Linked DNA regions of Homo sapiens: region 2 is linked to region 1. The links come from fine-mapping of genetic effects on gene expression. A gene starts in region 1. The other region holds a variant in brackets. All regions are shown on one strand. Distances are from middle to middle. Region 1 holds the start of ENPP5 (ectonucleotide pyrophosphatase/phosphodiesterase family member 5). Region 2 overlaps ENPP4 (ectonucleotide pyrophosphatase/phosphodiesterase 4).

The links. PIP is the estimated chance that this variant, and not a neighbour inherited with it, causes the effect.
Region 2: its variant is the best candidate, but not a certain one, in a credible set for the expression of ENPP5 in whole blood (TOPMed, PIP 0.51).

The regions. Positions count from the first base shown.
Region 1 is chr6:46,169,314-46,172,130 of GRCh38, forward strand. It overlaps ENPP5 (ectonucleotide pyrophosphatase/phosphodiesterase family member 5), which reads right to left and starts at 1,667. Exons shown (of 5, transcript NM_001290072.2): 1 at 1,495-1,667; 2 at 740-801. RefSeq lists a silencer at 1,839-1,898.
Region 2 is chr6:46,133,015-46,135,831 of GRCh38, forward strand. The region is part of intron 1 of ENPP4 (ectonucleotide pyrophosphatase/phosphodiesterase 4); the gene reads left to right. Among named protein-coding and RNA genes, the nearest start is that of ENPP4, 4.4 kb to the left of the region's middle. The variant A/G (reference allele first, on the strand shown) is at 1,081.

The DNA of each region.
Region 1 (2,817 bases):
ACCAAAACTTAGATCAAACCACACTTGTACAAATAAATCTCTTGAAACTGCCTTTTGATATCTTCCTAAGCTGAAGACTTCTTTTTTTTTTTTTTTTGAGAGGGAGTCTCACTCTGTTGCCCAAGCTGGTGTGCGGTGGCACGATCTCAGCTTACTGCAACTTCCGCCTTCCGTGTTCAAGCAATTCTCCTGCCTCAGTCTCCCAAGTAGCTGGGACTACAGGCGCCCGCCACCACACCCAGCTAATTTTTGTATTTTCAGTAGAGACAGGGTTTCGCCATGTTGGCCAGCCTGGTCTCAAAACTGCTGACCTCAGGTGATTCACCCTTCTCGGCTCCCCAAAGTGCTGGGATTACAGGCATGAGCCACCGCAGCCGGCCTGAAGACATTTTTAAACTTCAAAAATATATCCTGTTTCACCTTGCTGTATTATAGGTACAGGTAAATAAAAACTACTTGGCATGCTTGCTTTGCTTTCAGAAATACAAGGTATATGTACATTGTGGGTATTCGCTGAGGGCAATAAATTCTGTTTTGCTGGTTTTAAACTGTGTTTTCACCATACCTAGACATTTCTTAAACTGAAATTGTTTTAGGTATTGGTCTCAAGATGATAGCTCAAATGTCATATTTAAAAACGATTTCTTGGATGGCAATACTCTCTCTGATTCTGGAAGGAACATTAAACACAGTTGCAGCAAGGAATAGCAAATAGGTTACTGCAAATATATTTACTCACCTATCTGGCTATGGATGGTAGTTGCTCTCTCTGTCCTTTCTCCCCCTAATTTTCTCTCCCACCTTTTTAAAACAAGGAAGGCTAGTATCAACCAAATGTAATTTAAGGCTAAAAGCAGAGGAAATAAACTACATGGAACACCTCATTTTCATCTATCTTAGCAAATTAATTCGGCACATGTGTAAGCAGGAGAAAACTGCTTTCTTGGGACCAACAAAAGTAAGCAAAGATTAAGTGTTGTCTAAAGCTTAGGAATGTTTGGCAAGAAGACTCAACATCACATCCATGACACAGAGCAATAAACAGAGGTGGGGGGTGGGGAATGAAAACAATCAGAATTTTTTTTTTTTTCGTGCACAAAATGCTGCACAAAACAGTGGAATCCCTGGATCTGGCTCCACATTTCATTGAGTACTTTCCAGTTCTTTCTCCCCTCCAACCCTTCCTCCACAAACAGACTTGGAGAGCAGGAAGGACGGGGCACCGATTAAACGGAAGAGGGAAAGTGCAGAAGGAGTAGGTTTGTGTAGCTCGGGTAGACGTCAAGGGCGGGGGTGTCCATCTTCTCCACCAGGATTCCATCCTAGCCACCCAGAATGGTCGCGGCGTAGGTTATGTTCCCAATTCCCAGTCATCCCGCCCACCGAGGCCTGGGCTTCTTAGATGTGCAGTGGCAAGGAGGGGACGTTGCTTTAGGGACCCAGAGGAGCAGTGTGGGTTCCCGGGAGGGAAGCCACCCACGCCCCTGGACTCACCCTCGCAGCGATCCGTTCAGTCCGTATTAGTTTGGAGCAACGGGAGGGAGGGTCTGGAGGAGACTCCCTCGGGCGCGCCGCGGGTAACGGCGGGAGGGTGACTGGAGGAACGCCCCCGGAACGCGCAGGAGCTCACCTGCGCTCAACTCTGGAGCGGAGCACCTGACCGCGCCGCTTCCCCGCCCCGCCTCCTGGCTTCTATTGGCTGCTGCAGAGATAGTCACTTCTGCCTGGGTTGCCCCCGAAAGCCAGGCTCCCAGGAGTAGCTGCACGGCCTGTCAATCAGCGGGGGCAGGGGCGGGCGCTGCCTGGGTTTGGAGGGTGGAGGGGGAGGGGACTCCCGGGGGCAGGGACCCATCTGGTAGGGCGAAGGCGTGGGATGGCCAATTGCTTGGTCACACACAAAACCTTCCGGCAACGTGCCTTTTCCAGGGGACCAGCTGTGCTGGAGTCAGTGATGCTGAGAGATTATTGCGTGTTACCCCAATGGTGGGTGTACTCTAACAGTCACTGTTTTTTGTTTAAAAGCGACTTGTATTCTCTGATTTCTTATCCCAGGCTTTTTTCCTTCCCCCGCCCCCCGCCCCCTGCCTTGTCACGAATTGGCGATGGGGCACACCATGGGCTTTGCTCTGAGGAACACCTGCACACCCGAGGATGCCAATGGGACGATGAAGTTTCATTCTTTTTATTAGTGGGTGTTATCTGCTTTACCTCAGAAAGAATTTATTAACCTAGTCAACTCTGCAGCCCCAACGTTTGCAGTCCAGGTTTTTGCAATTGAGGTCCCTGAGGTATATTTGTGGTGTACCTAGCATGGCACCTGAAATTGTGCGAATTAAACCAAGACAGGTTCAGAATTAGGTTAATTTGCACAGGAGAGAGGCTGAACAGCCACCCTCTCTGGTGGTGGCATCCGAGCTCCAGACTCTGTTTCTACCTTTGTTTGCAAAGTAAACATTAAAACTACAAACATCAGGCCTGATTACTCTTTCAGAAAGCCTTCAGTGCTTCTTGTGTGTTAGTGCCCCTATTTTGTCTTTTTCCGTACTGTAGTGGATTATTTTCTCAGTTTTTTTGGGATAATCAATGGCATTTTTAGGCCTGAGGGAGTGTAGGCAGGTACTTAGTTTGCCAGTATGATCCCAACTGTCTTTACCATAAATTATAGCAGTGATATCAAACTACCCTGAAAGAATTTGTCCATCTACACAATCCCAGCTAGAATTCTGACCTAATTAGAATTCTAGTTCTATCTGCAGTAGGCAATAATATCAGGTTGATTGTTACAATGTAAGTTTAACATCTAATTAGCTGGTAAAA
Region 2 (2,817 bases), 36 kb before region 1:
TGCTGAAGTTGCTTATCAGCTTAAGGAGATTCTGGGCTGAGACAATGGGGTTTTCTAGATATACAATCATGTCGTCTGCAAACAGGGACAATTTGACTTAATTTGGAAGAAATTTTGATGAAAGGACAAGGAGTAATGGAGGGAGGTATTTTACTATGTAGAAAGTAAGATAAGTGTAAGTGTTTTGAAGCTGCTAGAAAACTTTGTGTATGCTAGAAATTTCTGTGTATTTTACAAAATTGGAGAATAATTTAGAATCCTACGATTTTTAAGACTAAGGAATTTTTAAGGAGTATATTTTTTTCCTTAGACTATAAGAAAGCAACTGATAATAATCTAAAGATAACTGCCTTATTTATAGTCATAGAATAAAGTTTTTAAAGGTGTATGAGAGTTTCATTGTATTACAGAGCAGATGGCGTGCTAATAGTGACAAATATCTTTCACCATATCCTGTAATGGTTTATACTCTCTTGGCTTCACATGGGCTAGGAATGCCAGTGAGAGTTGACTGCATTCCATCCAGGGAAGAACGTCTTCCCAGAGAAATTAGAAGGTAGTTTGTCCCCTGAATTGAAGACTAACTCATACTTCCATTTGTTGTAGGGATATTTGGTTGCAGTCCAGAGAGGTCTGCTTTTTTTCTTCTCTTTGACATCTTTTTGGTGTGAAAAATTACAGAATTTCTCTCAATGTTTTATACTGTAACAGTTTCATTCCCTGCAAACTTTATTTTCATTCCTTGGAAACTGCTTGAGAACTTCTCATTGTTGGTTTGTCTGTAGCTTAACACTCCCTATTAGAATGAGACAGAATGTGGCAGACATGGATCCGGCACTGCTAATAAAAGGTGTTCTATCAGGAAGAGTTCTGTTAATAGTTTGGAGATTATTATCAGACTTGTTAACTTGCTATTACTGGACTTGTAAACTTATTGAGGACATGAAATTAGTAAGAACACAGTGAAGCAACTGATTGCTTTCTGAGCCCGGCTAATCACTGGACTTTAGCTTCATCATAAGCAAAGTCATATGCAAGGTCATCATATGCGAAGAGATGAGACTAAATTATTCCTAATGT[A/G]TTTTATAGTTTCACAATAATATTCTGCCTATCATAGTACAGTCTTGTTTTTTTTCCCAACATCTTTGTAACTAGAATGATAAAGGGAAACTAATTTTGAGGGCCTATTCTGTAACCTTTACACATCCTCATTTTACACACAAGGAAACAGAAGCCAAGAAAAGTTGGATCTACCCAAGATCACCCATCTACTAATTGTGAGTTCAGGTTCTGGGACCCTTCTGACTTCAGTCTATAGTCTTTCCACTTTGTCTGTACTACTTATCCTGAGAACAAGGACTGGGACGCTTGGATCCCAGCAGTGTGCTGAGGGATTACTGAGCCACAGGATTAACAGCATGTGTTCCTGGAGCATCCTTTTAACTCAAGATTTGAGGAAGAAGCATTTTGATTTGTGTTTTGTGGGAGAGGACGGACACAGGTTTTTGGTCTGTTTTGCACATGGGAAGTGGTATAAAACTTTCACATTAAAACACTCAAGTGTGTATTTTGGAGTATAAAATTCACTTTTTTGAGGTAAAATGAGATCAAAAATGTTTCCTGTTTTGTGGCAGGACATTTCAGATTACAATTTCACTTCCCTCTGCTCTTTTTTAAAAAATAATATTTTATTGAGATATAAATCACACACCATTCAATTCACTCATTTTAAGAGTACTGCTTTATGGAGCTGTGCAACTGTCATCACAATCAATTTGAAAACATTTTCATAACCCCAAAAATAAACTTTATACTTACTGGCATTTATTACCCATTTCCCCCCCAACCCCTGGCCCTAGATAGTTACTATAGTTACTTTTAGTCTCTATAGATTTGCCTGTTCTAGACATTTTATCTAAATGGAATCATATAATAAGTGATTTTTTGTGACTGCGTTCTTACATTTAGCGTATTTATCCAGGTTATAAAATGTGTTAGCACTTCCTTCCTTTTTGTGTCAAATAATATTTCATTATATGGATATATTACATTTTATTTATCCATTCATAAGTTAGTGCACATTGAGATGTTTCCACTTGATTCTTACAAATAATGCTGCTGTGAACATTTGTGTACAAGTTTTTGTGTGGACATATGTTTTCATTTCTCTTGAGCACATACCTAATAGTAGAATTGCTGGGTTATATGGTAGCCCTATGTTTAACCCTTTGAAGACTGCCAGAATATTTTCCAAAGTGGCTGTACCATTTCACATTTCCAGTAGCAGTTTATAAAGGTTTCAATTTCTCTATCAACACTTGTTGTTATCTATTTTATTTACTCATCCTTCGGGGTGTGAAATGGTACCTTATTGTGGGTTTGATTGCATTTCTCTGATGACTAATGCTGTTGAGCATCTTTTCATGTGCTAATTTGTCATTTGTGTCTTCTTTGGAGAAATATCTTTTTCAGCTCATGCTCATTTTTTGACTGGATTATCTGACTTTTATTATTGAGTTGTAGCAATTCTTTATATAGTCTAGATACAAATCTCTTCAGATATATGATTTGCAAATATTTTCTTCCATTCTCTGGGTTGTCTTTTCACTTTCTTGATGGTATCCTTTGAGGCACGAGACTTTTTAATTTTGAAGTCCAGTTTATTTCTCTTTTTTGGTCACTTGTGCTCTTGGTGTGGTATCTAAGAAGGCTCTGTTGAACCCAGGGTTACAAAAATGTACTCCCACATTTACTCCTACATTTTCTTTTAAGAGTTTTACAGTTTTAGCTATTAATCTAGGTCTGTGATCTACTTTG